Regions from separate parts of the Homo sapiens genome. Here region 1 is linked to region 2. The links come from fine-mapping of genetic effects on gene expression. A gene starts in region 2. The other region holds a variant in brackets. All regions are shown on one strand. Distances are from middle to middle.

Region 1 (15,777 bases), 29 kb before region 2:
AGATTTCACCTCTCTTCCTTCTTCATTAGATACCCAATTCTGATGGGTTTGCTTTTCCCTGTTCTTCATTTCCTAAACCTTTCCCTAAAGGGAGAAAGGAAGAAGGAGGATGGAGAACTTGGTTCCTAAATTTAATATAAATCACAGTCACCCCAGGAGCCTGCTAACTGTGCAGATTATCAGGCCCAACCCCCCGAGATTCTGACCCAGCAGCTCTGGGGGAAGGGTGAAGAGCCTGCTTGTTTAACAAGTGCTCCAGATGAGTCTAATGCAAGTTGCCAGCGGAGGGCCACCCTTTGAGAAACCTCTCAGAGTATTTCATAACTCTTGCTGAAGTTATTTCTTCCAAGTGCAGAAAATGAAGCATTTTCTTTCTAATTATAGAGGCCCCCAGAATGAGAAGTGACAACAAGGAAAATCCACAACAGGAAGGGGCTAAAGGAGCAAAGCCATGTGCAGTGTCAGCTGGCAGATCCAAAGGGAATGGTCTGCAGAATCCTGAACCAAGAGGGGCAAATATGAGTGAACCTCGGTTGTCACGGAGGCAGGTCAGCTCCCCAAATGCTCAAAAGCCATTTGCTCACTACCAGAGACATTGCAGGGTGGAATACATCAGCAGCCCCCTAAAAAGCCACCCACTGAGAGAGCTAAAGAAAAGCAAAGGAGGTAAACGGAGTCTGAGCAACCGTTTGCAACATCTTGGTCACCAGCCCACCCGCTCAGCAAAGAAACCCTACAAATGTGATGACTGTGGGAAAAGCTTCACGTGGAATTCAGAGCTGAAGAGACACAAGAGAGTCCACACAGGAGAGAGACCCTACACGTGCGGAGAGTGTGGAAACTGCTTTGGGCGGCAGTCAACCCTGAAGCTGCACCAGAGGATCCACACTGGAGAGAAGCCATACCAGTGTGGCCAGTGTGGGAAAAGCTTTCGCCAGAGCTCAAACCTTCACCAGCATCACCGACTTCACCATGGGGACTAAAAGGAGCACTCCATGCTTTAGATTCACACGGAAGGTGTTTGTGTTTCTCCTCCCCCTTACTTGCATGTAAATCACAAAAACTGTGTGACTTACAAGGAAAGCACGAGGCCCTTGAGGAATGATGATGCACATTCTGCTGTGAGGAGGCCCAGAAAAGGCCAACCAGGGCCCAACCGTGCATGATGACAGGGTGAAGAGAAGGCAGGTCTGGGCACTGGGGCAAAGAGAACTTAAGTCTCTGCAGAGAGCAAGGAGTAACTACTGAGAGAGAATCAGGACAATCCTGCAGGTGGCCCGCTTACTGTTAAATCGTCCCTCTGTTGCTTTATCCTCTAAAATATGTTAAGGGATAAATTCTATATATATAGTTATGCATTTGCTGTCATACCAGACAATTTTTTATCATGAGCACACTTCTTTAATAAAGATGAGTGATCTACCAGAATTTCAAGGCAAAGTTAATTGGAAAATAGATCCCTCATATTCTTTCTGTAATTACTAGCTGTTTATAGCAAAGGATGAATTAAATGAGAATATGCACGTTTGTGCGAGAAGAGTTTCCAAGTAGTTAGATGGTGCTTTTACAAAAAGAAAAGAAAATTACATTTGAGGGATCTTTTTTGTATCAAAGCACCTTTTTTTTTTCCTTTTTATTTTTTGAGACAGGGTCTCGCTATGTTGCCCAGGCTGGTCTCGAACTCCTGGGCTCAAGCAATGCTCCTGCCTTGGCATCCCAAAGTGCTGGGATTGCAAGTGTGAACCACCGTGCCTGTTCTCAAAGCACCTTTGATTGAGAAAAAAAAAATCTACACAGTTGCTGCAACCCCAGCCTAACACATAAGGAAAAGCTACAGTGAGAAGCAAGTAGTGGACAAAGAGTACTAAGGAGATATAAAAGGGAATTCTTCCCACTCTCCTTTCTCACTTAGCCCATTAGCTTTAAGAATAACAAAATGCAATGGGGGTACAGTGGCTCACACATGTAATCCTAGCACTTTGAGAGGCTGAGGCAGGGTGATCGAGCCCAGGAGTTTGAGACCAGCCTGGGCAATGTAGCTAAATCCTGTCTCTACAAAAAATACAAAAATTAGCCAGGCATGATGGTGCATGCCTATAATCCCAGCTAGCTACTCTTGGAGGCTGAGGCAAAAGTATTGTTTGAGCCCAGGAGTTAGAGGCTGCAGTGAGCTATGATTGCACCACTCCACTCTAGCCTGGATGACAGAGTGAGACTCTGTCTCAGGAAAAAAAAAAAATAGCAAAAGGATTGGGGTAATGAAAATATTCTAAGACTGGATTACAGTGATGGTTGCACAACTCAGTAAATTTACTAAAAATAATTGAAATGGGCTAATTTTATGATATGTAAATTGTACCTCAACAGCGTATTTTTAAGTGACAAAATATATTTATATAAAATGAGCCCTGGAAATAAGCCTGAGCGATCATCTAATGCCACCTCCTCGTTTTCTCAAAGCGGAAATTAAAATGCAAATCAGTATACAATTCCTAGCTCATTGCTCAGTTTAGAGAAAACTTTTGGCAGATTAGTGCATTCCTGATGCAGAAAATAAGAAGCAAGTAGCATTTTTTTTTTTTGAGACAGGGTCTCACTCTGTTGCCCAGGCTAGAGTGCACTGGCGTGATCATGCCTCACTATAGCTTCGATCTTCTGGGCTCAAGCAATCCTCCCTCCTCAGCCTCCCGAGCAGTTGGGACTACAGGAATGCACCACCATGCCTGGCTAATTTTTCTATTTTTTTGTAGAGACAGAGTCTCACTGTGTTGCCCAGTCTATCCTCGAACTCCTGGGCTCAAGCCATCCTCTCACTTTAGACTCCCAAAGTGCTGGGATTACAGATGTACGCTCAGCAAGGTAGCATTCTTCACAAAACATCAGTATCATCAAGTAACTACCAGTCACCTCAGGGCTGTGGGCTGAGCTCTTCTGTACCCCCCAAGGAATCTCTTGTCCCTTCTAACTGCCGAGGGACATATGCACACCTATGAGTCCTCTTTGGGGCCTTTGCACACAATTGTTTCCTTTGCCTTTATTTCCTGATGCTCCCCACTCCCTCCTGCCTCCTCCCTCTCACAAGAGTTTCCTTCTCTCAAAGCCTTCCCTGAGGAGCCCTAGGCAGACTTCTGTGAAAATTGGGGTCCAGCCTCTCTGCTAGACCCCATACACCAGGGGTGCTCAAACTGGGAGCCCCCCAGGGGTTGTCGGACAAAGTCCAAAGACACTTTTGGTTGTTAGGACTGGGGAAGGGAGGCTTGTTGCTGGCCTCTAGTGGGTTCTACTGAACCGCCTGCAGTGCCGGGACAGCCAGCCCCCACAGCAATGACCTGGCTCAAAAAATCAGTATCACCAAGGCTGGGAAACTACCATGCACTATAACAGCTCTTTCAAAACAAGAACATTGTTTTTCCATAACTTTAGCTTCTGGACTTTGTCAATAACCAGCCAAGAGAAACAGATGTTCAGTATGTGAACAGTTGAGAATCCCCACTGTACCCACAGGGCCCATGTCTGCCTGAGTTCAGAGATCCTGGTGACAATCTGTTGAATGCACAGGTGAGCTTCTGTCTTTTGGGCAGAGGCTTATTGAAGGCCCAGTGGCCTTCCTTACAGCTTTTGTGGTCCTTTAGGTACTTTAGGCCCTGATCCCATTCCCATCTGTTATGTTAGATCATGAAGAATTTAGCTTCTGTATCCGAGCTGCCCCATACCTGGCTCCATCCTGATACCTCTCCCTGGTCAAGGCCTCTTTCTTCCTCATTGTGTTTCCACCTCACCCTACTGAAACCAGGCTGATTTCACTGTTGTCCCTTAATAACCTCCAAGTCATAGTCACATCTGTATTAGGTACTTTGTGGTGTGGTAACAGATGACCCACCAGCTTAATGGTTTAAAACAACACAAACTGGGGCCGGGCGTGGTGGCTCACACCTGTAATCCCAGCACTTTGGGAGGCCAAGGTTGTGAAAAGTTCACCTGAGGTCAGAAGTTCAAGATCAGCCTGGCCAATATGGTGAAAGCCTGTCTCTACTAAAAATACAAAAATTAACCGGATGTGGTGGTGCACGCCTATAATCCCAGCTACTCGGGAGGCTGAGGCAGAAGAATCACTTGAACATGGGAGGCAGAGGCTGCAGTGGGCCGAGATTGTGCCACTGCACTCCAGCCTGGGCAGCAAGAGTGAAACTTGGACTCAAAAAACAAAAACAAACAAAAAAACACAAAAAGCAAAAAAACCGCCGGGCACGGTGGCTCACGCCTGTAATCCCAGCACTTTGGGAGGCCGAGGTGGGTGGATCACGAGGTCAGAAGATCGAGACCATCCTGGCTAACACAGTGAAACCCCGTCTCTACTAAAAATACAAAAAAAATTAGCTGGGCGTGGTGGCAGGCACCTGTAGTCCCAGCTACTCAGGAGGCTGAGGCAGGAGAGTGGCGTGAACCCAGGAGGTGGAGCTTGCAGTGAGCCGAGTTTGCACCACTGCACTCCAGAGCCTGGGCTACAGAGCAAGACTCCGTCTCAAAAAAAAAAAAAAAAAAAAAAAAAAAAAACCCACAACCTTATCGTTCTAGAGGTCAGAAATCTGAAATTGATTTCACTCAGCCAAAATCAAGCTGTCGGCAAGGCTGGTTCCTCTGAAGGCTCTGAGGGGTGAATCTCTTGCCTTGACTTTTTCAGCTTCTAACAGCCACCCACATCCTTTGGCCTCCACCCTCAAAGTGCATCACTCCAATCTCATTCCACCGCATTCTCCTCTGACTATGACCTTCCTGCTTGCCTTGTATAAGGACCGTTATGATGTTGGGCCCACCGGCATAATCCAGAATAATCTCCCTATCTCAAGATCCTTAACTTAATAACATCTGCAAAGCCCCTTTTGCCATATAAGGTAAACTTAATGGGTTCCAAGTATTAGGATGTGGACACATTTGGGGTGCCATGACTCAACCCACCGCACATATCCATCTTGAATCAAGTTAGTCAAAGAGCATCTCTCCTAAAAGAGAAGGACCATAGATTTCTACTTAATTATAAGGGTTGGGGTCAGGCGCAGTGGCTCACACCTGCAATCCCAGGACTTTGGGAGGCCGAGGCAGGCGGATCATTTGAGGCCAGGAGTTCAAAACCAGCCTGGCCAACATGGTGAAATCCTGTCTGTACCAAAAAAAAAAAAAAAAAAAAGAATTAGCCGCGTGTGGTGGTGTGCGCCTGTAGTCCCAGCTACTCACGAGGCTGAGGCATGAGAATCTCTTGAACCCGGGAGGCGAGGCTGAAGGAAGGTAGAGGTTGCAGTGAGCTGAGATCGCACCATTGCACTCCAGCCTGGGCAACAGACCATCCCCAAGCATAGCCTTCCTTTGGTATAAGGCTCAACTCCAGGCCAAGAGGACCAGGAAGGGTCCAATGGCTACAAGAACCCAAGGTCCTGTACTCAGATGTAAGTTTCCTCTCAGCCCCCGTACCCATGCATGGTCTGCCAGAGGACCTCAGCTGCTCCAATAGATTGTGATTCTCCGTATCCACCAGTCTGTCTCTACAAATTTTGGGGTGGCTGTTTGCCCTGTGACCTCACTTCTCTTACAGAAGAATTGTTGGGTTTTTCGGGTTGTTCAGCTTTTTATTTGTCATTAGAATGGAGTGACAACTTTCAAGCTCCTTATATTTGCAACCAGAGACTGGAAGTCACAAGAGTGAAACACCGTCTCAAAAAAAAGAAAACAGCAGTGAGACAGTGACTCCCTGACCTCACTGGCTAGATGAATTCCTCTTAAACCTTCTCAAAGCAAAACATGGCTCTACTTGGCTGCAGTTGCCCTCTCAATGCAGATCGCAACGAAACCCTCTCAATGCAGATCTCTGCCTTCCCGCCTCAACACTGCACCCGGGAGCCCTCCTCCAAGGGTCAGTGCCCGATAGGTTTGAGGGCAAGCCCCCGCCAGGGTGAAGCCGCCTCCTCCTCTGGGCCTGGGACGTGCTGGGAGGGAGGGAACGCGGTCCCCCGGGGAGTCACATGCCCCCATTCCCGGGGTCACCCAGGGACAACGGGCAGGAATAGACAGGTAAGGACCCTGCAGCTGAGCGAGCCCTGTGGCCGGATGTTCCAGGTAGGCTTTTCCGGAAATCGCCACCGGAGGATAGAACGCTCCTAGGGTGAGGGGCGGGGCCTCGACAGGAAATACCTGAAAGAGTCCCCTCTGAGTGGGCTGCTTGGCGCCCAGCCCGAGGAATTCTCACCTTCCATTGCCTGGCACAGCTGTCAGGGTGAAGAGGAGGCCGGGCAGCCACGGAGCCCTCTGGGAATTGTGGTTTTCGTGGGCTCCACGTACTGCTGAGCTGTTGCTTGCCTGAGACTGTTGAACCTCAAAGGGTGTCCTGGGGTTCATTCATTAAGCTTGTTCACGCAAATGACAAATATTTATTGACTGTCCACAACACGCCAGGCACCAATAGGGGCTGGAGGCAATATGGTGAACCCGGACGATGCTCATGGTCTCTTAGAAAGCCCAGTCTCCAGGCCGGGCGCGGTGGTTCACGCCTGTAATCCCAGTACTTTGGGAGGCTGAGGTGGGCGGATCACCTGAGGTCAAGAGTTCGAGACCAGCCTGGCCTACATGGTGAAACCTCGTCTCTAACAAAAATATAAAAAAAAAAAAAAAAAAAAAAAAAAAAAAATTAGCTGGGCGTGGTGGCGTGCGCTTATAGTCCCAGCTACTCAGGGAGGCTGAGGCAGGAGAATTGCTTGAACCCAGGAGGCGGAAGTTGCAGTGAGCTAAGATCACACCACGGCACTCCAGCCTGGGTGACAGAGGGAGACTGTATCTCGGGGGAAAAAAAAAAGAAAAAAGAAAAAAGCCTAGTCTCCAGCAAGGAACACATCTGAATCAAATAATTACACAAAGGCAAAACTGCAACCACACAGCTCCTAAAAGAAATGTTAAAACAGAAATGGCACAATAACAAGTGACTGAGGAAGGATCTAATTTATAAAGATAGAAAGGTTTTTGTTTTGTTTCGTTTTGTTTTTTTGTTATGTTTTGTGTTTTGTTTTTGAGATGGAGTTTCGTTATTGTTGCCCAGGCTGGAGCGCAATGGCGCGATCTCAGCTCACCGCAACTGCCGCCTCCTGGGTTCAAGCAATTCTCCTGCCTCAGCCTCCCGAGTAGCTGGGATTACACACAACCGGCCAATTTTGTATTTTTAGTAGAGACAGGGTTTCTCCATGTTGGTTAGGCTGGTCTCAAATGGGTGATCTACCCGCCTTGGCCTCCCAAGGTGCAGGGATTACAGGCGTGAGCCACTACGCCCAGCCAAAGGTAGGAAGGTCTTTATGCCACCCCCAAACATTCTCTTGCCAGGGCGATCACTTGATGACGACAGCGATTCCTCACAGAGATACAACTGACAGCACATCTGCTTTGACTAGCATATTCGAGATAGACCCTATGATTATCTTCCTGGCATTTGAGGAGACTGAGATTCAATAATGTTTCTGGAGTTTGTACAGCTCATAGGAAGTTGAGAGATGTAACAACACACCTCCAGTGCACCTTCCATCCTGTCTCCTACTGCCTGCCCAACATACCCTACAACCTGGTCCTATATTTTCTGATGTGTGAAATGTGATGATAATGGTGAAATAATCCAGGAAAAGTGCTTAGCATAGGAGGGCTGGCATAGGACCCGCACTTGAATGGTGTTAGCCACTTTTATAACTATTCTAATTACCTCTCTGATTCTCTACTCTGATTTAACTATTATTTTTAACCCAAGCACCCATCCTCTCTTCTCCTTCTTCTCTTTTTTGAGGTAGGGTCTCACTCTGTTGCCCAGGCTGGAGTACAGTGGTACAATCATGGTTCACTGTAGCCCTGAACTCCTGGACTCAAGTGATCCTTCCTTCACACTTAATCCCTGTGATTTTGGTAGAACTGATACCAACTCCAGGACAGCACATGAGAATCCAACCTGAACAGTCTACTCCATCTTCCTGGCCACAGCGTGTACAACACTTAAGATGTACAACATGATATTCTGATATACATATACATAGTGAAATGATTAATATAGTCAAGCAAATTAACATATCCATCTCCTCACACAGTTACCTTAAATTTTTTTCCTCTAGTAAGAATACCTGAAATGTACTCTTATCAAATTTCCAGTACTATATCATTAAGTATAATCATCATATTGTACATCAGCTTTCTAGACTTAGTCATCCTATATAACTGCAACTTTATACCCTCTCACCTACATTTCCCCATTTCCTCCCCCGCCCCCGCCCCCACCACCATTCTACTCTGTTTTTTGTTG[G/T]TTTTTTTGGTGAGGATGCAGTCTCGCTCTGTTGCCCAGGCTGGAGTGCAGTGGTGCGATCTCAGTTCACTGCAACCTCCACCTCCCAGGTTCAAGCAAATCTCCTGCCTCAGCCTCCCAAGTAGCTGGGATTACAGGCATGCTGCCACCATGCCCGGCTAATTTTTGTATTTTTAGTAGAGATGGAGTTTCACCATGTTGCCCAGGCTGGTCTCGAACTCCTGACCTGAGGTGATCTGCCTGCTTCGACCTCCCAAAGTGCTGGGGTTACAGGCATGAGCTACCGCACCCACCCTACTCTGCTTTTATGTATTTGACTTTTTTAGATTTTGTATATAAGTGGGATCATGTAGTATTTTTTCTTTCTATGTCTAGCTTACTTCAGTTAGCACAAAGTCCAACAGGTTCATTCATGTTGTTGAAAATGGTAGAATCTTTTTTTTTTTTTTTTTTTTTTGAGACAGAGTCTTGCTCTGTCACCCAGGCTGGAGTGTAGTGGTGCAATCATAGCTCACTGCAGTCACTTGACCTCCCGGAATCAAGTCGTCCTCCCGCCTCAGCCTCCCAAGTAGCTAGGACTACAGGCGTGTGCCATCACACGTGGCTTATTTTGTAAAACATTTTTTTCTGTAGACACGGGGTCTCACTATGTTACCCAGGCTGGTCTCAAACTCCTGGGCTCAAGCAGTCCACCCACCTTGGCCTCCCAAAGTGCTGGGATTACAGGGGTAAGCCACTGCACCTGGCAGATAGATCTCCTTTTTAAGGCTGAATAATGTTCCGCTCTGTGTGTGTGTGTGTGTGTGTGTGTGTGTGTGTATCCATTTATCTACCAGTGGACACTTAGGTTGTTTTCAAGTCTTGGCTACTGTGAATAACGTACCTTAGTTGTATACAGTATCCTCACAGATATTGCAGTTTTGATTCCAGACCCCTACAATAAAGTGAATGTCCCAATAAAATGAGCCACACAAATGTTTTGATTTCCTGGTGAATATAAAACCTATGTTTACACTATACTGTAGTCTATTAAGTGTGGAAAAGCATTACATCAGATAAACAAAATGCTGATAAGTGTGGTGGCTGCAGAGGGTTGGGGTGGCAGGGACAATTTCTTAAAATAACAATGAAGTTTTTCAAATCAGTTGACTCTTCCTTTCACAAAAGATTTCTCCATAGCATGTGATACAGGGTGATAGCATTTTGTCCACAGTAGAACTTTCAAAATCTTCTCAAATCCTGCTGCTCCTTCATTAACTAAGTTTATGTAATATTCTAAATCCTATTGTCATTTCAACAACATTCACAGCATCTTTACCAAGAGTAGATTCCATCTCAAAAAAACACTTTTGGGCTGTGCAAGTGGCTCATGTCTGTAATCCCAGCAATCTGGGAGACCAAGGTGGGAGGACTGCTCTCTGAGCCCAGGAGTTAACACAGGGAAGACCCCAACTCTACAAAACAATTAAAAAATTAGCTGGGCATGGTGGTGCATGCCTGTAGTCCCAGCTACTTGGGAGCCTGAGGTGGGAGGATCACTTGAGCCTAGGAGGTTGAGGCTGCAGTGAGTTGTGATTGTGCCATTTGTACTTCAGCCAGAGTGACAGAGCAAGACCCTGTCTCAAAAAACAAAATGGTTGGGTGTCATGGCTCATACCTGTAATCCTAGCAATTTGGGAGGCTGAGGCACCCAGATCACTTGAGGTCAGGAGTTCCAGACAAGCCTGGCCAACATGGCAAAACCCATCTCCACAAAAATAGAAAAATTAGCTGGGTGTGGTGGCGTGCTCCTGTACTCCCAGCTACTCAGGAGGCTGAGGCAGGAGAATCGCTTGAATCCAGGAGTTGGAGGTTGCAGTGAGCTGAGATCACGCCACTGCACTCCAGCCTGGGAAACACAGTGAGACTGTCTCAAAAAAAACAAAAACAAAAGCAAAAACAAAACAAAACCAAACACTTATGGTTGGGAGCAGTGTCTCATGCCTGTAATCCCAGCACTTTGGGAGGCTGAGGTGGGAGGATCACTTGAGCCCAGGAGTTCAAGACCAGCCTGGGCAACATATCAAGTCCCCATCGCTACAGAGAAAAACATTTTTTTTTGAGACAGAGTCTTGCTGTGTCACCAGGCTGGAGTTCAGTGGTGCAACCTTGGCTCACGGCAACCTCCACCTCCCAGGCTCAAGCAATTCTCCTGCCTCGGCCTCCTGAGTAGCTGGGACTACAGGCACATGCCACCACGCCCGGCAAATTTTTTGTATTTTTAGTAAAGACAGGGTTTTACCGTGTTAGCCAGGATGGTCTTGATCTCCTTACCTTGTGATCTGCCTGCCTTGGCCTCCCAAAGTGTTGGTATTACAGGCGTGAGCCACCACACCCAGCCTACAGAAAAATTTAAAAAATTGGACAAGTGTGGTGGCACATGCTGTAGTCTCAGCTGCTTGGGAGGCCAAGGCAGGAGGATTACTTGAGCCCAGGAGCTAGGCTGCAATGAATTATGATTGTACCACTGCAGTCTAGTCTGGGGGAGTGAGAGCCCATCTCAAAAAAATAAAATGAAATAAAGAGAAGAATGAAATTACTCTTTGATCCATGGGCTGCAGAATAAATGTTGTGTTAGCAGGCATGAAAACATTAACTTCCTTGTATATCTCCATCAGAGCTCTTGGTTGTCCAGGTGCATTGTAATAAACTGTAATATTTGGAAAGGAATATTTTTTTTTCTGAGCAGTAGGTCTCAACAATGGGCTTAAAATATTCAGCAAACCATGCTGTAAACACATAGGTTGTCATCCAGTCTTTGTTGTTCAACTGATAGAGCACAGGCAGAATAAACATAATTCTTAAGGGCTTCAGGATTTTTCAGAATGGTAAATGAGAACTGGCTTCACCAACGGCATTCACCCCAACAAAAGAGTCAGCCTGCCCTTTAAGGCTTTGAAGCCAGGCATTGACTTCTCCTCTCTAGCTACAAAAGTCTTAGATGGCATCTTTCCCCAATAGCAGGCTGTTTTGTCTACATTGAAAATCTGTTCTTATTGTAGCCACTTTCATCAATGATCTTAGCTAGATCTTCTGGATAACATGCTGCAGTTTCTCCATCAGCACTTGAAGCTTCACCTTGCACTTTTATATTATGGAGATGGCTTTTCTCCTTAAACCTCATGAACCAACTTTTGTTACTTCCCAACATTTCTTCTGCACCTTCTTCACCTCTCTCAGCCTTCACAGAACTGAAGAGAGTTTGGGCCTTGCTCTGGATTAGGCTTTAGTTTAAGGGAATGTTGTGGCTGGTTTGATCTTCTATCCACACCACTCAAACTTGCCCCATATCAGCAAAAAGACTGTTTCACTTTTTTATCATTCATGTGTTCACTGGAGTAGCACTTTAAATTTCCTTCAAGAACTTTTCCTTTGAATTCACAATTTGGTTAAACATTTGGCACAAGAAACCTAGCTTTTGGCCTGTCTCAGGTTTTGACATGCCTTTCTCACTAAGCTTAATCATTTCTACCTTTTGATTTAAAGTGAGAGATGGGCCAAGGGGTGGTTCATGCCTGTAATCTCAGCACTTTGGGAGGCTGGGGTGGGTGGATCACAAGGTCAAGAGTTGGAGACCAACCTGGCCAACATGGTGAAACCCCATCTCTACTAATAATACAAAAATTAGCCAGGAGTGGTGGTGCACACCTGTAGTCCTAGCTACTCAGGAGGCTGAGGCAGGAGAATCGCTTGAACCTGGAAGGCAGAGGATGTAGTGAGCCAAGATCACGACACTGCACTCCAGCCTGGGCGACAGAGCGAGACTCCATCTCCAAAAATAAATAAATAAAGTGAGAGATGTGTGACTCTTCCTTTCACTTGAACACTTAGAGGTCATCGTAGAGTTATTAAGTGGTCTAATGTCAATATTTTTGTGTCTCAGGGAAAAGGGAGGTCCAAGGAGAGGAAGAGCGATGGGAGTATGGCTGGTCAGTGGAACAGTATTGAAAGTTCCATGCAGGCTGGGTGCGGTGGCTCATGCCTGTAATCCCAGCACTTTGGGAGGCCAAGGTGGGCAGATCATGAGGTCAGGAGTTCGAGACCAGCCTGGACAATATGACAAAACCCCGTCTCTACTAAAAATACAAAAATTAGCCGGGCATGCTGGCATGCACCTGTAGTCCCAGCTACTCGGGAGGCTGAGGCAGGAGAATCGCTTGAACCGGGGAGGCAGAGGTTGCAGTGAACTGAGGTCCTACCACTGCACTGCAGCAGGGGTTGACAGAGTGAGACTCCATCAAAAAAAAGAAAGAAAGAAACACAGAAAGAGAGAGAGACGAAAGAAAGAGAGAGAGAGAGAGAGAGAGAAAGAAAGAAAGAAAGAAAGAAAGAAAGAAAGAAAGAAAGAAAGAAAGAAAGAAAGAAAGAAAGTTCCGTGCAGTATTTTCTGTTCCTGCCAGTAGTTTCTGGCCTCCAACTCCATCGATATTCCTGCAAAAGACATGATCTCATTCTTTTTTATGGCTGCACGGTATTTCATGGTGTATATGTACGTTTTCTTTATCCAGTCGTCACTGATGGGCCTTTGATTCCACGTCTTTGTTATTGTGAATGGTGCTGCTGTGAACATTCATGTGCATGTGTCTTTACAAGAGAATGATTTATATTTCTCTGGGTACATACCCAGTAATGGGATTGTGGGGTCAAACTGTAGTTCTCTTTTTAGCACTTTGAGGAATCGCCATACTGCTCTCCACAATGGTTGGGCGAAATTTATACTCCCACTAACAGTGTATAAGTGTTCCCTTTTCTCTGCAATCTTGCCAGCATATTTTTTGACTTTTTAATAACAGCCATTATCACTGGTGTGAGATGGTATCTCATTATGGTTTTGATTTGCATTTCTTTAATGATTAGTGATATTGAGCTTTTTTTCTTATGATTGTTGGTTGCATGTATGTCTTCTTTTGAAAATTGTCTGTTCATGTCCTTTGCCTACTTTTTAATGGGGTTGTTTTTCTCTTGCAAATTTGTTTACATTCCTTATAGATGCTGGATATTAGACCTTTGTCAGACGCATATTTGCAAATATTTTCTTCCATTCTGGAGGTTGTCTGTTTACTCTGTTGATAGTTTCTTTTGCTGTGCAGAGGAAGCTCTTTAGTTCAATTAGGTCCCATGTCTCAATTTTTGCTTTTGTTGCAATTGCTTTTGGAGTCTTTGTCATGAAATATTTTCGATCCTATGTCCAAGACGGTATTGCCTCGGTTGTCTTCTAGGGTTTTTATAGCTTTGGATTTTACATTTAAGTCTTTAATCCATCTTGAGTTGATTTTTGTATATGGTGTAAAGAAGGGGTCCAGTTTCAATCTTCTGCATATGGCTAGCCAATTATCCCAGCACCATTTATTGAACAGGGATTCCCTCCACCCACACACCATTGCTTGTTTTTGTCAGCTTTATTGAAGATCAGATGATCTTAGGAGTGTGGCCTTATTTCTGGTCTCTCTATTCTGTTCCATTGGCCTATGTGCCTGTTTTTGTACCAGTACCATGCTGTTTTGGTTACTGTAGCCCTGTAGGACAGTTTGAAGTCAGGTAATGTGATGCCTCCAACTTTGTTCTTTTTGCTTAGGATTGCCTTGGCTATTCAGGCTCTTTTTGGTTCCATGTGAATTTTTTTTTTTTTTTTTTGAGACAGAGTCTTGCTCTGTTGCCCAGGCTGGAGTGCAGTGGCGCAATCTTGGCTCACTGCAAGCTCCGCCTCTCGGGTTCATGCCATTCTTCTGCCTCAGCCTCATGTGTAGCTGGGACTACAGGCACCTGCCACCATGCCCAGCTAATTTTTTTTTTTTTGGTATTTTTAGTAAAGATGGGGTTTCGCCGTGTTAGCCAGGATGGTCTCAATCTCCTGATCTCGTAATCTGCCCATCTCGGCCTCCCAAAGTGCTGGGATTACAGGTGTGAGTCACCGCAGCCAGCTGGTTCCATGTGAATTTTAAAATAGTTTTTTATAATTCTATGAAGAATGTCATTGGTAGTTTGATAGGAATAGCATTGAATCTACAAATTGCTTTGGGCAATATGTCCATTTTAATGATATTTATTCTTCCAATCCATGAGCATGGGATGTTTTTCCATTTGTGTCATCTCTGATTTATTTCAGCTGTGTGCTGTAATTCTCATTGTAGGGATCTTTCACCTCCCTAGTTAGCTGTATTCCTAGGTATTTTATATACTTATTTATTTTTTTGAGATGGAATCTTGCTGGGATTACAGGTGTGAGCCTCCATGCACGGCTTGGTATTTTATTCTTTTTGTGGCAATTGTGAATGGGATTGCCTTCCTGATTTGACTCTCGGCTTGGCTGTTGTATGTGCATAGGAATGCCGGTAATTTTTGTACATTGACTTTGTATCCTGAAACTTTGCTGAAGTTGTTTATCAGCTGAAGGAACTTTTGGGCTGAGACAATGGGGTTTCCTAGATAGAAACATGTCATCTGCAAACAGGGAGAGTCTGACTTCTTTTCTTCCTATTTGGATGCCTTTTCTTTCTTTCTCTTGCCTCATTATTCTGGCCAGGACTTCCAATACTACGTTGAATAAAAGTGGTGAGAGAGGGCATTATTGACTTGTGCCAGTTTTCAAAGGGAATCCATCCTGCTTTTCCTCATTCAATGTGTTGGTTATTTTATGTTTTCTTTAGAAAAATGTCCATTCAAATTCATTGCCCATTTTTTAATTGGGCTATTTGGTTAATTTGTTTTTGAGTTGTGTGAGTTCCTCATATATTTGATGACTTTATCAGATATATTATTTGCAGGTATTTTCTTTTAATCCATAGTCTACCTTTTCATTTTGTTGACTGCCTCCTTTGCTTTGCAGCAGTTTTATAGCTTGATGTAATCCTACTTGTTTCTTGTGTCTTGCTTTGTTTTTTTTTTTGCCTCAGCTTTTGGTGTGATATTCAAAAAATCATTGCTGGCTGAGTGCAGTGGGTTACATTTGCAATCCCAGCACTTTGGGAGGCTGAGGCAGGCGGATCACCTGAGGTCAGGAGTTCGAGACCAGCCTGGCCAACATGGCAAAACCCCGTCTCTACTAAAAGTACAAAAATTAGCTGGGTATGGTGGTACACACTGTAATCCCAGCTACTTGGGAGGCTGAGGCAGGAGAATTGCTTGAGCCCGAGAGGTGGAGGTTGCAGTGAGTCAAGATAGCACCACTGCACTCCAGCTGGGTGAGACAGAGCAAGACTCTGTCTCAAAAACAAAAAACAAAAACAACAACAAACAAAACATAAAATAAAAAATAAGGAAAGATTTACTATTGATATTTTGTTACTTATTTCTGTTAGTCTTATAGTCCTTCTGTCCCTTTCTCTTGCTGTTTTCTTTTGTATTTCACTGTTTTTTTTTTTTTTTTTTTTTTGAGATGGAGTCTTGCTCTGTCACCCAGGCTGGAGGGCAATGGCACAATC
Region 2 (15,777 bases):
GAGTCCAAAGCAAAACTTTCCTCGCATGTTTTGCACTTATGGGGCCTTTCCTCTGTATGAATGTTCTGATGGGAAATAAGCTCAGAGAAACAAGGAAAGGTCATGTCACAGTCAGGACACTGTAAGGGCTTGAATTTTGAGAATGAGAAGAAATTGTCCCCATCATCGCTGCAGCGTTCAGAGTCCTCGTCGTGGCTCTTCTCGGAAAGGGCAGGATATAAGGACTGCCTGAAGCTCTTCATGCACTTAGTGTGCTGGTACTGGGGGCCTGATACGAATGTTTCCTCAGGCAAAGCAAGATTTGGTTTCTCATTAAAATGTTTATCACAGTTAGTAGATTCGTAGGTGTTTTCAGCACTGTGGCTTTTCTGATGCTGTGCCAATCCTGGGAGCCACATAAAACCTCTACCACATATGCTACATGTATAGGGCTTCTCCTTTACGTGGCTATTCATGTGTCGGGATAGATGAGAGTGCTGGCGAAAGCTGGCACTGCACTTGGCACACTTATAAGGTTTCTCACCAGTATGGATTCTCCTGTGTGTCCTCAGGTTGGCTCTATGATTGAAGATCTTTCCACAGTCACCACATTTATGTTTTTTCTCTCCTGAATGAATTTTCTGATGCAAAACTAGGTATGAATGATCGCTGAAGTTTTGGTCACACTCAGGACATTTGTACACATTTTTGGCTCCTTCCCAGGGAGAATCAAGAATTTCAGAAAGTGTGTTGGTTCCTAAATATTCAGAGAGTTCTACTAATGGGGTGTGGTTTTCAATGGTAACTAAAAGGCTGATGACCCTTCTCTTGTAAGTGGGAGTTCCACTTAATATTTTCGCTTCAGGGTTTCCAACTCCATCCTCAGAGGATTTTTCTGGGTAAGGGACAAGGGGTGCAGCAATGGGGTACTTTTCTAAGGCAAGCTCGTCAAGTTCCATAGACTCTAGGCTTAACTGCTGATTAATCTCAGGCTTGCCTTCCTCTCCTGTTGATAAAAACAAAAGAAAGCAAAACATAGACAATATCTTCAAGGGATACTGGGGAAAAAGTAAGCTAAGGTAGTTACAAACAGGACCAGGAAACCTTAGAAGGGTTATTCTATAACCCAGACACTAACCACACAAAATCAGGACCAAGCAGACTCTCCTGGCCTCCCAGAAGATCCAGTTTTGGGTGAATATCCAAAGGTAAGGAGAGAATAGCTATAACTAAGTCAGAGTCCAGTGGGATAGGTACTAAGGACAATCTCAGTAGCAGCTATCTAGAGGTGAACTTTTCCATCTAATCTATTTAGGCCTCAAGAGCCTTTCATTTTTGAAGCTATCTCAAGTGACAGCAGAACAATTAACAATTGGAAAAAAGATTAGGATTCATATTTATCAACAAAGAGAGGGGTTGGGCAGTGTCTCACGTCTGTAATCTCAGCACTTTGGGAAGCTGAGGTGGGAGCATCACTTGAGGCTAGGAGTTTGAGACCAGTCTGGGCAACACAGTGAGACCCCATCTGTACAAAAAATAATTTTTAAAAATTAGCCAGGCATGGTGGCACATGCCTATAGTCCTAGATACTCAGGAGGCTGAGACAGGAGGATCACTTGAGCTCAGGAGTTTGAGATGTGCCATTGCACTCCAGCCTAGGTGACAGAGCCAGAACTTGTTTCTTAAAAAAAAAAAAAAAAGATGACAGCAAGAATGAGTGGGAAAGAAAATAATTTTTAAAAAGAGGCTGGGCACGGTGGCTCACACCTGTGATCCCAGCACTTTGGGAGGCCGAGGCGGGTGGATCACGAGATCAGGAGATCAAGACCATCCTGGCTAACACGGTGAAACCCCATCTCTACTAAAAAAAAATACAGAAAATTAGCTGGGCGTGGTGGCCTGCGCCTGTCGTCCCAGCTACTCGGGAGGCTGAGGCAGGAGAATGGCGTGAACCCAGGAGGCGGAGCTTGCAGTGAGCCGAGATCGCGCCACTGCACTCCAGCCTGGGCGACAGAGCAAGACTCTGTCTCAAAAAAAAATAATAATAATAATTAAAAAAGAAAAAAGAAAAAAAAGCAATCAAGTGAGCATTTTTCTTCCATAACAAAGAAACACACGGGTTATCAGAAATAGTTTTATTATCACCAGGAGAACTCTCCAAAATCTCTTTACTCCTCACTGAGGAAAGATCAAGGTAGAAGGCTGTGTGTACTGCATGAAAATAACAGCCAATCTACTTACAAGAATGGCTGACAAAACTAACATTCCTGTGTAATATTTTCCAAGTATTCTTCAGTTATAAAGCAAATATATCAATACAAAAGGAACTTTTCTTTCCAGAGAAACAAAGTTCTACAGTTTTCCCAACTCACTGACTAGAAAGGGCTGCAGTATAGTTCATGGGAATCCAAACAGTACCAAGTGGTTTTGCTGATTTGAGGGGACTGAGTTCAGAGATCAGGGATGCCAAGGCAGCTAGAATTTGAAAGCAAAACAGCAAAGAGGCAGCTGTTCAGAAAGAGAGCTCAGGTCATCTACATGGGGTCCCCTTAAGACTTTCCTGAGGCTAGGTACAGTGGCTCAAACCTGTAATCCCAGCACATTGGGAGGCTGAGGTGGGAGAATTGCTTGAGCCACGGAGCTCGAGACCAGCCTGGGCAACATGGCAAAGCCCCATCCCTACAAAAAAAAAACAACAAAAAAAGACAAGCATGGTAGTGCATGCCTGTAGTCCCAGCTACTTGGGAGGCTGAGGTGGGAGGACTGCTTGAGCCTGGGAGGTCAGGGCTGCAGTGAGCCGTGATTGTGCCACTGCACTCCAGCCTGGGTGACAGATCAAGATACTGTATCAAAAAAAAAATAACCCCACAACTTTGGCTGAGTAGTAATCTACAAGTGCATGAAGAAACTACCCAATGCCGTGGAAAGAACCACCTAAAAGGAATAACAGAGCAATAACCAGTTCATGTTGCCTCCAGCCAAAGTGGAAAGACATAAGACATTGAGCAGCAACGTCCACAGAAAAAAACTGCCTTAGCAGTAACTCAAATAAGTCCTAGCAGAAAGGTTGATCTGAACCTATCCTAACAAAGCAAAAAAAAAAAGCACACCTTGAAACAGTCAAACTGACTCCAAGTAACTTAACTGCCTCCCACAACAAAGTCCAAAATATTTTTAAAAATACAACGAAATCCCGGGTCCAACAACATAAAATTCTTAATCTAACATCCGACCAAAATTTACCCAGGAAGTAAAGAAAATATAGAAAATATAACCCATAACTAGAAGACAAATCAATCAATAGAAACAGACCCAGAAATGACATCAATGTTAAAACTAGCAAGAAAAAAAAGTTTAAATAACCATTATAAATATACTCCATACATTTACGCAGACAGAAGACAACATGAACATGATGAAGAGAGAAGTGGAAGAAACAAAATATGAGTTATTCAGAATAACTAGTTACTCTAGTTATTTTTTTCTGACTAGGATTGAGTATCTCAACTATTCCAAACTATTTAGAATAACTACTTAGAATAGATAGTTTAGATACTCAATCCTAGTCAGAAATAAAATCTAGTCAGGCACAGGAGTCCATCTGTGTATGGTTCCCCTTAGGTGAGTAAGGCATAGCACCCCTTAAGAGTAAATCAATCTCCAGTCTTTAGCAAATGATAGTGATCGATACTAATGGGATTTCCCAAGTAAAATTGTAAACTGCAACAAATGTTTGTGAAAGATTACCAAATACTGCCATCTCTTGTACTAAACCACAGGCACTGTACTAGACTGAATTTTTGTCTTTAAGAGATCATCTCGGCCGGGCTCAGTGGCTCATGCCTGTAATCCCAGCACTTTGGGAGGCCGAGGCGGGTGATCACAAGGTCAGGAGATTGAGACCATCCTGGCTAACACGGTGAAACCCTGTCTCTACTAAAAATACAAAAAATTAGCTGGGCATGGTGGCAGGCGGCTGTAGTCCCAGCTACTCGGGAGGCTGAGGCAGGAGAATGGCGTGAACCTGGGAGGCGCGGTTTGCAGTGAGCAGAGATCGTGCCACTGCACTCCAGCCTGGGCAACAGAGCGAGAGTCTGTCTCAAAAAAAAAAAATCATCTCATATTTTAAAACTTTTTCTCTCACACAATTATCACCTCCACATAAATTACTGAGGGACAGGTCCCACTCCACCATACCAACATCTGGATAAAGCATGAAGTTCTCCTCCTAGAATTGACAAAAGTTCCAGATGCAGGAAAAACAATTGCCTTACCCATCAAAGCCGCATCCTCCAAAGACTCTTTTGTACCATCTTTGCTGAGGGACCTCTGGGCAGGGTGCAGAGTCACGCACTCCTCTTGAGAAAAATACACAGCCAGATCCTCAAAGAGTATTGGTCCCTGAAACACAAGAGCCTGTGTCAGCACAAGAGGGTGGAGGGTCAGCCCCTCACTTAACCTAGGAAGGATGAAAAGAGCTAGAAACATCAGATGCACGGGATAAAAGGCTCGGTGTAAAAGGTTCTTGAGCGCAGAAGTAGGGCAAATGGGTTCTAAGGGGTGGGGTGAGGGTTGGGAAGAAGAGAGTAAACATGGACATACATTTTTAGGCAGTGGTACAAGGACGGTGGACTGTGAGAATTATTGTCTATCTTGAAAGAGAAAAGATGAGGGAATGGCTCTTAGGGAGGCAACCATTAAGTGAGGATGCTCTAAGAAAAGGAGAGGTTTGGGGCCGGGTGTGGTGGCTCATGCCTGTAATCCCAACACTTTGGGAGTCTGAGGGGGATGCAGATGACTTGAGGTCAGGTGTTCGAGACCAGCCTGGCCAATATGGTGAAACCCTGTCTCTACTAAAATTACAAAAATTAAGGCTGGGCACAGTGGCTCACGCCTGTAACCCCAGCACTTTGGAAGGTGGAGGCGAGTGGATCACCTGAGGTCAGGAGTTCAAGACCAGCCTGACCAACATGGTGAAATTCTGTCTGCACTAAATACAAAAAATTAGCCAGGTGTGGTGGCGCATGCCTATAATCCCAGCTACTTGGGAGGCTGAGGCAGGAGAATCATTTGAACCTAGGAGAAAGAGGTTGCAGTAAGCCGAGATTGCACCATTGCACTCCAGCCTGGGCAACAAGAGTAAAACTCCGTCTCAAGCAGAGCTTGCAGTGAGCTGAGATCGTGCCACTGCACTCCAGCCTGGGCAACAGAGCGACACTCCATCTCAAAAACAAAAACAAAAACAAAACAACAACAAAAAAAACTCTGTCTCAAAAAATAAATTAAAATAAAATGAAATTAGCCAGATGTGGTGGCATGCGCCTGTAGTCCCAGCTACTTGGGAGGCTGGGCCAGGAGAATCGTTTGAATCCAGGAGGCAGAGATTGCAGTGAGCCGAGATCGCGCCATTGCACTCCAGCCTAGGCGTCGCAGCGAGACTGTCTCAAAAAAAAAAAAAAAAAGAAAAGAAAAGGAGAAAGTTGGGCAGCCCAGGAAGAATCATAAAGAGATAAAGGTTACAGGATTCTCCCAACATCCTTCCCTTTGCTATTTCCTCTCGTCCCCATGACACTCATTGCTAAGCTCACTCCAGCACTTCATCCAGGCCTACCCCACCTTCTCTAACGGTGTGATAAATTAATCACTTGGGATTTATTATTACTCAACGAGTGTGGAGTCTAGAAATGTGCTTAATTTAAAAATTCATTCAAATTGGAGAAGTACCAAATCTGTAATTTTGGGAACCATTCCAGAAAGTCACTTTTAATCCTAGCACTTTGGGGAGCCGAGGTGGGAGGATAGCTGAAGGCCAGGAGTTCCTTGGCAAAGCAGCAAGACTCCATCTCCATAAAGAAGTTTTAGGCCGGGCGCAGTGGCTCACACCTGTAATTCCAGCACTTTGGGAGACCGAGGCGGGCGGATCACAAGGTCAGGAGATTGAGACCATCCTGGCTAACACGGTGAAACCCCGTCTCTACTAAAAATACAAAAAATTAGCAGGGCGTGGCGGCAGGCGCCTGTAGTCCCATCTACTCGGGAGGCTGAGGCAGGAGAATGGCATGAACCCGGGAGGCGGAGCTTGCAGTGAGCCGAGATCGCGCCACTGCACTCCAGCCTGGGCGACAGAGCGAGACTCTGTATCAAAAAAAAAAAAAAAAGAACTTTTAAAAGTAGCCAGACACTGTGGTATGCGCGCCTCTCAGATACTCGAGAGGCTGAGGCGTAAGGATTCCCTGAGTTCCAGACGGAGCTATGATATCAGCACTGCACTCCAGCCAGACAAGCAACACTCCAGCGACAAGGCCAGACCCTATCTCCAAACAAAACAAAACAAACAGATAAGACATTGAGAAACTCTCTCAGAGATTCCTCCACAGGTCCCTGCTCCCAGTTGGTAGTTCTGAAAGAAGGAAGTTGGTAAACCATTATGTGTGTGGTCTTGGAACGAAGAACACTTGGTCAAAGGGCTATTTGGGGCTCAGGAGCACTCCTACCACAACAGGCATGCCCAACTCTCCTCCAAAGGAGGGGGTCAGGCAGAGACCGAAAGCAGCAATAAACTTGGACGAAAAAGGTACCTCGACTCACCTGGGCCTCGGGCGTCGGGGGCATGGACGCCATTTGGCGGGTGGGGAATGCCTTCTTCAAGACGCCACAGGGACTTCGTGACAAAGCTGCGGGGGGAGAGAACAGTTCTTAAAGGGACCAATTCCGCTGCCAAGTTCCTCCACTACCCCTAGCCTCCCTCGATTCCCTCCGAACCCCCCCTTAAAAACCTACGCCGACTGCTCCTCCTCTTGGCCCGGCCTCGAAAGGGGCCCACTTACCGCTCCGCGGTTAATAACAGGCCTCGCGCTCCCTGACAGGAGCTGCAGAAAGCGACGCCCGACCGAGACGCGACGAAGAACGCCACGGCCACTGCAAAACTCCCACGCTCTCATGCTCCTTTACGCAGGAGCTGCGGGAAAAGCCGCCGGAAGCGACCCGCCCTCAGCCCTCTCCGCCATCCTGCCCTTTGATTGGTCGAAGTTCTCCCGAAGGGGAAGTCCTTCTTTTGTGTTGACCAATTGAACACCTTAACCGAGGACCTGTAGCCACTGGGCAGCTGCGAGAGGTAGTTTTCCTCCTTTTCTCTAAGCAACCATTTCCGCTTCCGCTGGCGGGGTCTCCTCCGTGAGCTCCGGGCCTGTTTGCCTGCTGAAGTAGAGTCTTAGGGTGACCCCAGGGGGACGTAATGTTTCCGAGAAGAAGGACAGAAAGAAGACTGGGAGACACCGGAACTCGAAAGAAAATCGGTAACAAAATGTGGGTTCGGCCAACAGTGCCCTGTAGGCCTGAAATTTCGGTCTGGCCAGAGCAAGGTGATTGAGAGGGCGGGGGTTCGGGCCTAGCCTGGGCTTGAGCTGTCCTTTGTGTCTTGAGCGGATGGTGGGGCCGTGGAACATGAAGGAGTATCTTTGTGTACGTTCACAACGTTCACATCGGTGTAGGCCAGGTTGCTGGACTCTGACTCAAAGTGTTATAGAGGCATTACGTATTGTACCCGCAGCTGCAGCCTAAGCGAGCTGCTTCAGCTTCCTAGTCACAGGATCCCACGCGAGAATAGAGCCATAGGTTAGCGTCGCAGGACGTTGTTCGCCCCCGGATACCTCACATGCAGCCTACCCTAGAGCCAGTCATTTCCTATTGTGTGCTGGGGGAGGAGGGAGTGCCCTGGTGTAGGCATTTGGAATTGGAAAATTGAGCTCCTCCCCAAGCTCTGCCACTGATTGGTTGGTAATCTTGGCCAGTTTACAACTTTGCTTTCCTCAGCTGCAAACAGCTCAGAGTGCCTCTCTGGGCTAACTCAGAGGGTAATTTCAAAGATTATAAGATAATGTAAGTGAAAGAAATTGCCAGTTTATAAAGGTGTTTGGGGAAAAAAAAAGACGAAAATGATAGGTACCTTGATAGAAAAGCCTGAAAAGTCTCAACATATTTCCTTATTCCAGTGCCAGGCACATTCCTGTATCTAAAAGCTTAATGAATGGCTGCATGGTTATTAAAACAATATTAGGAGATTTGACAACTTAGGTAATGTGATTTTGTGGAATATCTGATAGGATAGTTTCAGCTACAAGTAACAGAAAACCCACCGAAAGGATGTTCAAAGAGCAGTTACAGGTTGGTTAATTCGGTGGCCCAGTGACAACATCAAGGTCCCAGTGCTTCTCTGCCACCCTAAGCATGTTGGTAACGTTGACAATAGAATCCAGGTAAAATATACAGACATGTATTGTGTCATGTACCCATCCTAAACTAGTTATTACCAAGAATAAATAATTGTTTGGGGCCCATCATGCTTCAGCCCCTGTCACTAGGGGAAGGACCTAGCCTCCCTTGATAATCTACCTGCACAAAATTAGGGCTTTGTTACAAATGAAAAAAAGAGATGTGGAAAATAAGTTAGATAAGAAACTAGCAGTATCTGCCACAAATGATATCTCTTGACAGCTAACTAAGAGCTAGACCTTGTGGGGATGGATCACAAAAGAGGTAGCTGTGAAGTCCCAGTAAAGGTGCTTCCAGGACAGGTGGAAGAATGGTAAGAACAAACTTGCCTACAGGCTAGACCAGTCCAAAGCATATATGTTGAAGAAGAGCTAATAGCCTGTATATGAAGGTGTAAGTAAAGGAGATGTTCATGGTTGAGTCACTGTGGTGTTCACGTAGTCATCTTTCCCTTCTTGGTTTGTGCTTATCTCTTTTTTTTTTTTTTTTTTGAGACAGTCTCACTCTGTAGCCAGACTGGGGTGCAGTGGCACAATCCTGACTCACTGCAACCTCTGCCTCCGGGGTTCAAATGATTCTCCTGCCTAAGCCTCCTGAGTAGCTGGGACTACAGGTGCCCGCCACCACGTCCGGCTAATTTTTTTTTTTTGTATTTTTAGTAGAGATGGGGTTTCATCATGTTGGCCAGGATGGTCTCGATCTCGTGACCTCATGATCCACCTCGGCTTCCCAAAGTGCTGGGATTACAAGCGTGAGCCACCGCGCCCCGCCTATTTAATGCTATTCTTACATCAGCACTGTCTCATTGTGGTCTGAGATTCTCCTTATCTGGATTTGTGGCTCTTTCACCAAGAACAAGAGACTCCCGTGGCTCTCTTCTTTAAATCCTGTTGCCATAATTACAAAGAAATAAACACAGTTTCCAATGCTTTGAAATGAAGCATGTGGTATTAACTCAGTGGATTACCAGAGAGAGAGGGATATACCTGAAATGGGAGAGGAAAAAATCTTCCCTAGACTATCTTTCCTAAGAGCCATCAAAACTATAAACAAGTGGACAAAGAAGGAGGAAGCTTGAAAGCTTTATCTTCCTGAAAATAAAGAGATGACATACAAAGTCCAAGATAGACCAAGATTGAAAAATTAGACCACATTATATCCCTAACTCAATTTTGTAAAAAATCACAAATGCTTGACTGTATACCCACTATATGTTCAAGTAACATGTTTTAATCATCAAAATTTAAAAATCCTTCCACGACAATCTTTTGCAAGTTTTTCCATTTCTGTCTTTAACATGGTACCAGTAATAACAACTACAACCTGTTTGTATTGAAATTATTTCTATAGCCCAGCATCTGCTTTCTCTGAAAATTATCTTTTTAAAAATAGTAAAACTAACATCATTACAAAAGTAGTATATGTGCATTTCAGAAAGTTAGGAAAGGCTGGGTGCGGTGGCTCACGCCTGTAATCCCAGCATTTTGTGAGGCTGAGGTGGGCAGATCACAAGGTCAGGAGATCGAGACCATCCTGGCTAACACGATGAAACCCCATCTATACTAAAAATACAAAAAATTAGCCAGGCGTGGTAGCGGGCACCTGTAGTCCCAGCTACTCGGGAGGCTGAGGCAGGAGAATGGCGTGAACCTGGGAGGCGGAGCTTGCAGTGAGCCGAGATCACACCACTGCACTCCAGCCTGGGTGACAGAGTGAGACTCTGTCTGAAAAAAAAAAAAAAAAGAAAATACAGGGGAAAAAATGGCAACACATTCCTGTCACCCAGAGATCACCACTATTTACTCTTTATTATTTGTTTTTTTTTTTTTGAGACAGTCTCACTGTTGCCCAGGCTGGAGAGCAGTGGTGCGATCTCTGCTCACTGCAACTTCCGCCTCCTGGGTTCAAGTGATTCTTGTGCCTCAGCTACCAGAGTAGATGAGATGATGGGCAGATGCCACCACAACCATTTAATTTTTGTATTTTTAGTAGAGATGCAGTTTTGCCATGTTGGCCAGGCTGGTCTCAAACTCCTGGCCTCAAGTGATCCGCCCATGTCAGCCTCCCAAAGTGCTGGGATTACAGGTATGAGCCACCGCACCTGGCCTGCTCACTGCAACCTCCATCTCCCAGGTTCAAGCAATTCTTCTGGCTCAGCCTCCCGAGTAGCTGGGACTATAGGTGCGTACCACCACACCTGGCGAATTTTTGTATTTTTAGTAGAGGACGGGTTTTCCCCATATTGGCCAGGCTGGTCTCGAACTCCTGACCTTGTGATCTGCCCGCCTTGGCCTCCCAAAGTGCTGGGATTACAGGCGTGAGCCCCTGCCCCCGGCCCCTATTCTTAAGTATATATCTTTTCCCTAGTGATTTTTATGATGATGCAGCTGTATATTGAAACGGAAAGATACTCATTTTTGGGAGTAAAATTGGTTATGAAACAAAAACAATAACAAAGTTGCTTTTGAAGACTATGCGTTAAAATGGTAGTGGTAGTTATATTTTTAATTTTTATGGGTACATAGTAGGTGTATATATTTATGTGGTACATGAAATATTTTGATGCAGGCATGCAATGTGTAATCACTTCAAGGTAAATGGGGTATCTTCCCTGGCGATGTTTAACATGATTTCCAGAATGAATTGCTCACTACGTTTGGTGTGTTTTCCATTCCCAGATGGTACTGCCTTTTAAGGTCTATTACTTAAACATAAGTATGGCTCTGGTTCTTACCGCCTTTACCGTATCCTTCATGGGAAGTTGATACTGATCGGAAACTGACACAGAGCCTTCTCACCTACACTAAGGGGGCCTAGGTAAGCAAGATTATCTTTCTCCCAACTTCAGCAAGAGGTTTTCTTACTGGTGTTCAGAATGCTTGATTGAGCAGTTAGAAAACTGTTGCTACCTAGTCTCCAGTCTTATAAGGGGACAATGGCTGCAAGTCATGCCTGCAAGAACAAGAGGCTCACACAGTTTTGAAATTAGCACAACTTCTAGCTGGATAGGAGTCTTTTTAGTTTCATTTAGCCTTGAGTTGAAACTAATAGGAGTCTTTTAATTAGAAAAAAGCTCAGGGCTCTAAACGTACCTTCAACATGTTAATTCTGTTACCAAAAACTGGCTTGGTCTGTGTTAACTCCCAACAGAATTCTTTTTCAGTCACTGAGGCAGAGGTGCTTCCAGAGAAAGATTCTTGACCTACTCATACTGAATAATTATCGTTACTAGAAGCTGCAACCAAAGACTCCTGGAGGGTAGTAAGAGGTACAGAGAATGCAGGTTAGATACAGTGAGGACAGAGAAGAAAGGATGGGTTGGAGGCTGGGCGTGGTCACTCACACCTATAATTCCAGCTACTTTAGAGGCTGAAGCAAGAGAATCACTTGAGTCCAGGAGTTCGAGGCTGCAGTGAGCTAGCATTGTGCCACTGCACTCCAGCTTGGATGACAGAGCAAGACCTTGTCTCAAAAAAAAAAAAAAAAAAAACATGGGTTGCTTTGTAGTTTAGAGAACTACATGTTTAGATAGTTAATTTTTCCCCAAAAGGGCCCATCAGATTGATACTCTGAGATCCAGGGTTTGTCTGACACTCATTAGCCTATGAGTTGTAGAGATGGGATGGCCAGGAGTGAAGTGATGGCCTTGTGTCTTTCTCCCCTGCAGCATACAGAAAGGCTGTACCTGGAGGAAGGAAGTGCGGAGCCAGCCTGAGTTGGGAGAAGAGCTCCAGAGAGTGAGTCAAAGCGCTCTGTGTCCTGCTATTAATGATGCCCTCATAGTCAGAGGAAGCCTACTTAAGTGAAATCCATTTTTGACCTGTCAAGTATTAAATATTCTCTTAATTTTTAGTACTGAATGATAGAAGGCGCCTAGTGAAACAAATGCTTTCACTTTTTTGCTAGGAGGGTAAATGAGTATATTCTTACGTTAGGTACACAGGGATACAGTACAAGTATGCCAGCCTCTTTAAACTATAAAGAAGTAAACAAGATTTGGTTTAAGCATCAGTCTCTTGTGAGTCTGATGGGTAAGCCCAGTCTCAGGGCACACTGACAATGTTAGTGGAGAACGAGACTCTCCCAGTGTGCTGCCCTGACCCTCTGAGATTGGTCTGTGTAGCCACGTGGTGGTCATCCTGTGCCACCTCTGGTTTGGTTCTAATCAAAGGAAGCAGTATCATCTGTGGTGATCCGTCTTACACACTTGCATCATTTTATACCAAAGGAGAATTTCTTTTGTTAAAAATTTATTTTTCATTATCTACTCATAAAGAAGGAGCCAAAGGGCTGGGCGCAGTGGCTCACGCCTGTAATCCCAGCACTTTAGGAGGTGAGGCGGGTAGATCTCTGGAGGTCAGGAGTTCGAGACCAGCCTGCCCAACATGTTGAAACCCCATCTCTACTAAAAAATACAAAAATGTAGCCGGGTGTGCTGGGCGTGGTGGCTCACGTCTGTAATCCCAGCACTTTGGGAGGCCAAGGCAGGTGGATCATGAGGTCAGGAGATCGAGACCATCCTGGCTAACACGGTGAAACCCCATCTTTACTAAAAATACAAAAAATTAGCTGGGCGTGGTGGTGGGCACCTGTAGTCCCAGCTACTTGGGAGGCTGAGGCAGGAGAATGGTGTGAACCTGGGAGGTGACAGTTGCAGTGAGCCGAGATCACACCACTGTACTCCAGACTGGGCGACAGAGCAAGACTCTGTCTCAGAAAAAAAAAGAAAAATTTAGCCAGGCATGGTGGCGCCCAACTGTAGTCCCAGCTACTCGGGAGGCTAAGGAAGAAGAATTGCTTGAACTCAGGAAATGGAGGTTGCAGTGAGCTGAGATCGCACCACTGCACTCCAGCCTGGGTGACAGAGCGAGACCCCATCTGATATGGTTTGGCTGTGTCCCCACCCAAATCTCATCTGCAATTCCCATATATTATGGGAGGGACCCAGTAGGAGGTAATTGAATCGTGGGGCAGGTCTTTCCCATGCTGTTCTCATGATAGTGAATAAGTCTCACGAGATCTAATGGTTTTTAAAAAGGGGAGTTTCCCTGCACAAGCCCTCTTTTGTCTGCCACCATGTGAGACATGCCTTTTACCTTCCACCGTAATTGTGAGGCCTCCCCAGCCACGTGGAACTGTAAGTCCATTAAACCTCTTTTTTTTGTAAATTGCGCAGTCTCAGGTATGTCTTTATCAGCAGTGTGAAAACAGACTAATACATCGTCTCAAAAAAAGAGAAAAGAAGAAGAAGGAACTAAAGAAGAATTTCTTTGGAAGCAAAATATTTGGAAGCAAAATATTTGGCTCCTGACTGAAAGGGTTTTGATCCATGCATACATTAATAAACCCTTCAGAACCATGAGTTGGGATAATTCACTGTCCCTTGTGCTAGTCTCATGGAGCTTTTCTGCTCTTCTGGGAGTGCTCCTGGGGTGGTCTGGAGGCCTCTCAGGCAGAGCAGAGGCTGGTCAGCAAGCCACAGGGCTTGCCATGAAGTGGTTTGTTCATGATTTGTTTCTGGGACCCTGGGAAAAATGTTCTCAGGGTCTGCCTAGGAAGGCTGGTTTTGGAAGCTTGTGGATTTCTTTCTGGGTGAGTCAGGAAAGTTGTGCTCCTGCTGGGCGCAGTGGCTCATGCCTGTAATCCCAGCACTTTGGGAGGCTGAGGCAGGCGGATCACAAGGTCAGGAGATCGAGACCATCCTGGCTAACATGGTGAAACCCCATCTCTACTAAAAATACAAAAAATTAGCCGAGCGTGGTGGTGGGCACCTGTGGTCCCAGCTACTCGGGAGGCTGAGGCAGGAGAATGGTGTGAACCCGGGAGGCGGAGTTTGCAGTGAGCCGAGATCGTGCCACTGCACTCCAGCCTGGGCGACAGAGTGAGACTCCGTCTCAAAAAAAAAAAAAAAAAAAAAAAAAGAAAGTTGTGATCCAAGGGAAAGCATACAGGTTTTAATGATGAACTAGTTTGTTCCTTTGTCTCCTGGCTTTCATTCTTCATGGCATGTGCTCAGGGCAGCCAGTGGAGAGAGGCATCATTCTGCATGGTATAGAAGCCTTGGGTGGGTGTTTCATCATCTGTAAAATGAGGACAACAATACTGAACTTTCAAGGCCATTGTAAATTAGAATGTACAGTACAAGCATTGTAAGTTAGAAGTCAATTAGAACATGCAGGAGGGATTATAACTCAGTGTTTAGCGTATAGCAGACACTTAGTAAATAATGCATTTACTCTGTTCCATTCTAGAAGCTCCATTGTTGTTTGTACAACAAACACCTCTGTTGCAGTGCTTATCAGATTGTCTTGTAATCACGTAACTCCTCAAAGGCAGGATGTGTGTAATAACACATTTCCTTGGTCACCATTTGTACCCAGAATGGGGAAGGAAGAAATGAAAAGAATCCAGTATCTAAGCCCAGCCTCCATTTCACTTGCACGCCTTTTATTTATGAAAATATAGTACTTGTCCATGTAAATAATATCTCTGAATGGATACCAGGAAAATGGTAAGATGAGTTAGCTGGAGAACTTGGGTACTGAGTTGGAGGGAGGGTAACTTATTTTTCACCAATGTATCCTTTTGTTTTGCTTTAAAATAATTTACCACAGGCATGCATTACTTCTAAAAATAAAAATGTTTACTGTCAGAAAACTCCCCCAAGTTAAACCAAAACCAAAATATGTTAGATACATCTGTAACACTCATTATAAAAGATGACATATAAATGCCTCAAAAATAGAAAAGGTGATCAAACTTACTGAGAAATGTGCATTAAAACAATGAGACCTTTTTCAGTTAGATTGCAGAAAGGTAAAGAATAATACCTGGCCAGGTGTGGTGGCTCACACCTGTAATCCTAACACTTTGGGAGGCCAAGGTGGGTGGATCACCTAAGCTCAGGAGTTGGAGACCAGCCTGGGCAACATGACAAAACCTCGTCTCTACAAAAAATGCAAAAACTAGTGAGGCTTGGTGGTAGGCGCCTGTACTCCCAGCTACTCGGGAGGCTAAGGCAGCGGAATCACTTGAGCCCAGGAGGCAGAAATTGCAGTGAGCTGAGACCACACGACTGCATTCCAGCCTGGGGGACAGAGCAAGACCCTGTCTCAAAAAAAAAAATGAGCATGGTGGCTCACACCAGTAATCCCAGAATCCCAGCACTTTGGGAGGTAAGGTGGTCAGATCACTTGCACCAGGAGTTCGAGACCAGCCTGGGCAATATAGTGAGACTCTGCCTCTACAAAAAATAAAAAATTAGCCAGGTATGGTGGCGCATGCCTGTACTCCCAGCTACTGGGGAGGGTGAGGTGGGAGGATCACTTGAGACCAGGAGGTTGACGCTGCAGTAAGCCGTGATCACGCCACTTTACTCCAACTTGGATGACAGAGTGAGACCTTGTCTCAAAAAAATTAAAAAAGACTAATTCCCTATGTTGGTGAGGCTGCGGGCCATTTGCCCTGCTGTAGTGGGTGTAGAGTCTTCACACTCTTGGTATGAGAATAAATTGGTAAAACTTTCTG

The links. PIP is the estimated chance that this variant, and not a neighbour inherited with it, causes the effect.
Region 1: its variant is fine-mapped to the expression of ZNF597 in blood mononuclear cells (TOPMed, PIP 0.98).

What each region holds. Positions count from the first base shown.
Region 1 is chr16:3,407,937-3,423,713 of GRCh38, forward strand. It overlaps ZNF174 (zinc finger protein 174), which reads left to right. Exons shown (of 3, transcript NM_003450.3): 3 at 385-1,428. The coding sequence ends at 983. Among named protein-coding and RNA genes, the nearest start is that of ZNF174, 15 kb to the left of the region's middle. RefSeq lists a silencer at 12,367-12,649. The variant G/T (reference allele first, on the strand shown) is at 8,318.
Region 2 is chr16:3,436,554-3,452,330 of GRCh38, forward strand. ZNF597 (zinc finger protein 597) reads right to left here and starts at 6,951. Exons shown (of 4, transcript NM_152457.3): 1 at 6,807-6,951; 2 at 6,568-6,653; 3 at 4,254-4,380; 4 at 1-985. The coding sequence starts at 6,600. It overlaps NAA60 (N-alpha-acetyltransferase 60, NatF catalytic subunit), which reads left to right and starts at 7,127. Exons shown (of 8, transcript NM_001083601.3): 1 at 7,127-7,284; 2 at 11,918-11,987. RefSeq lists an enhancer at 7,211-7,360.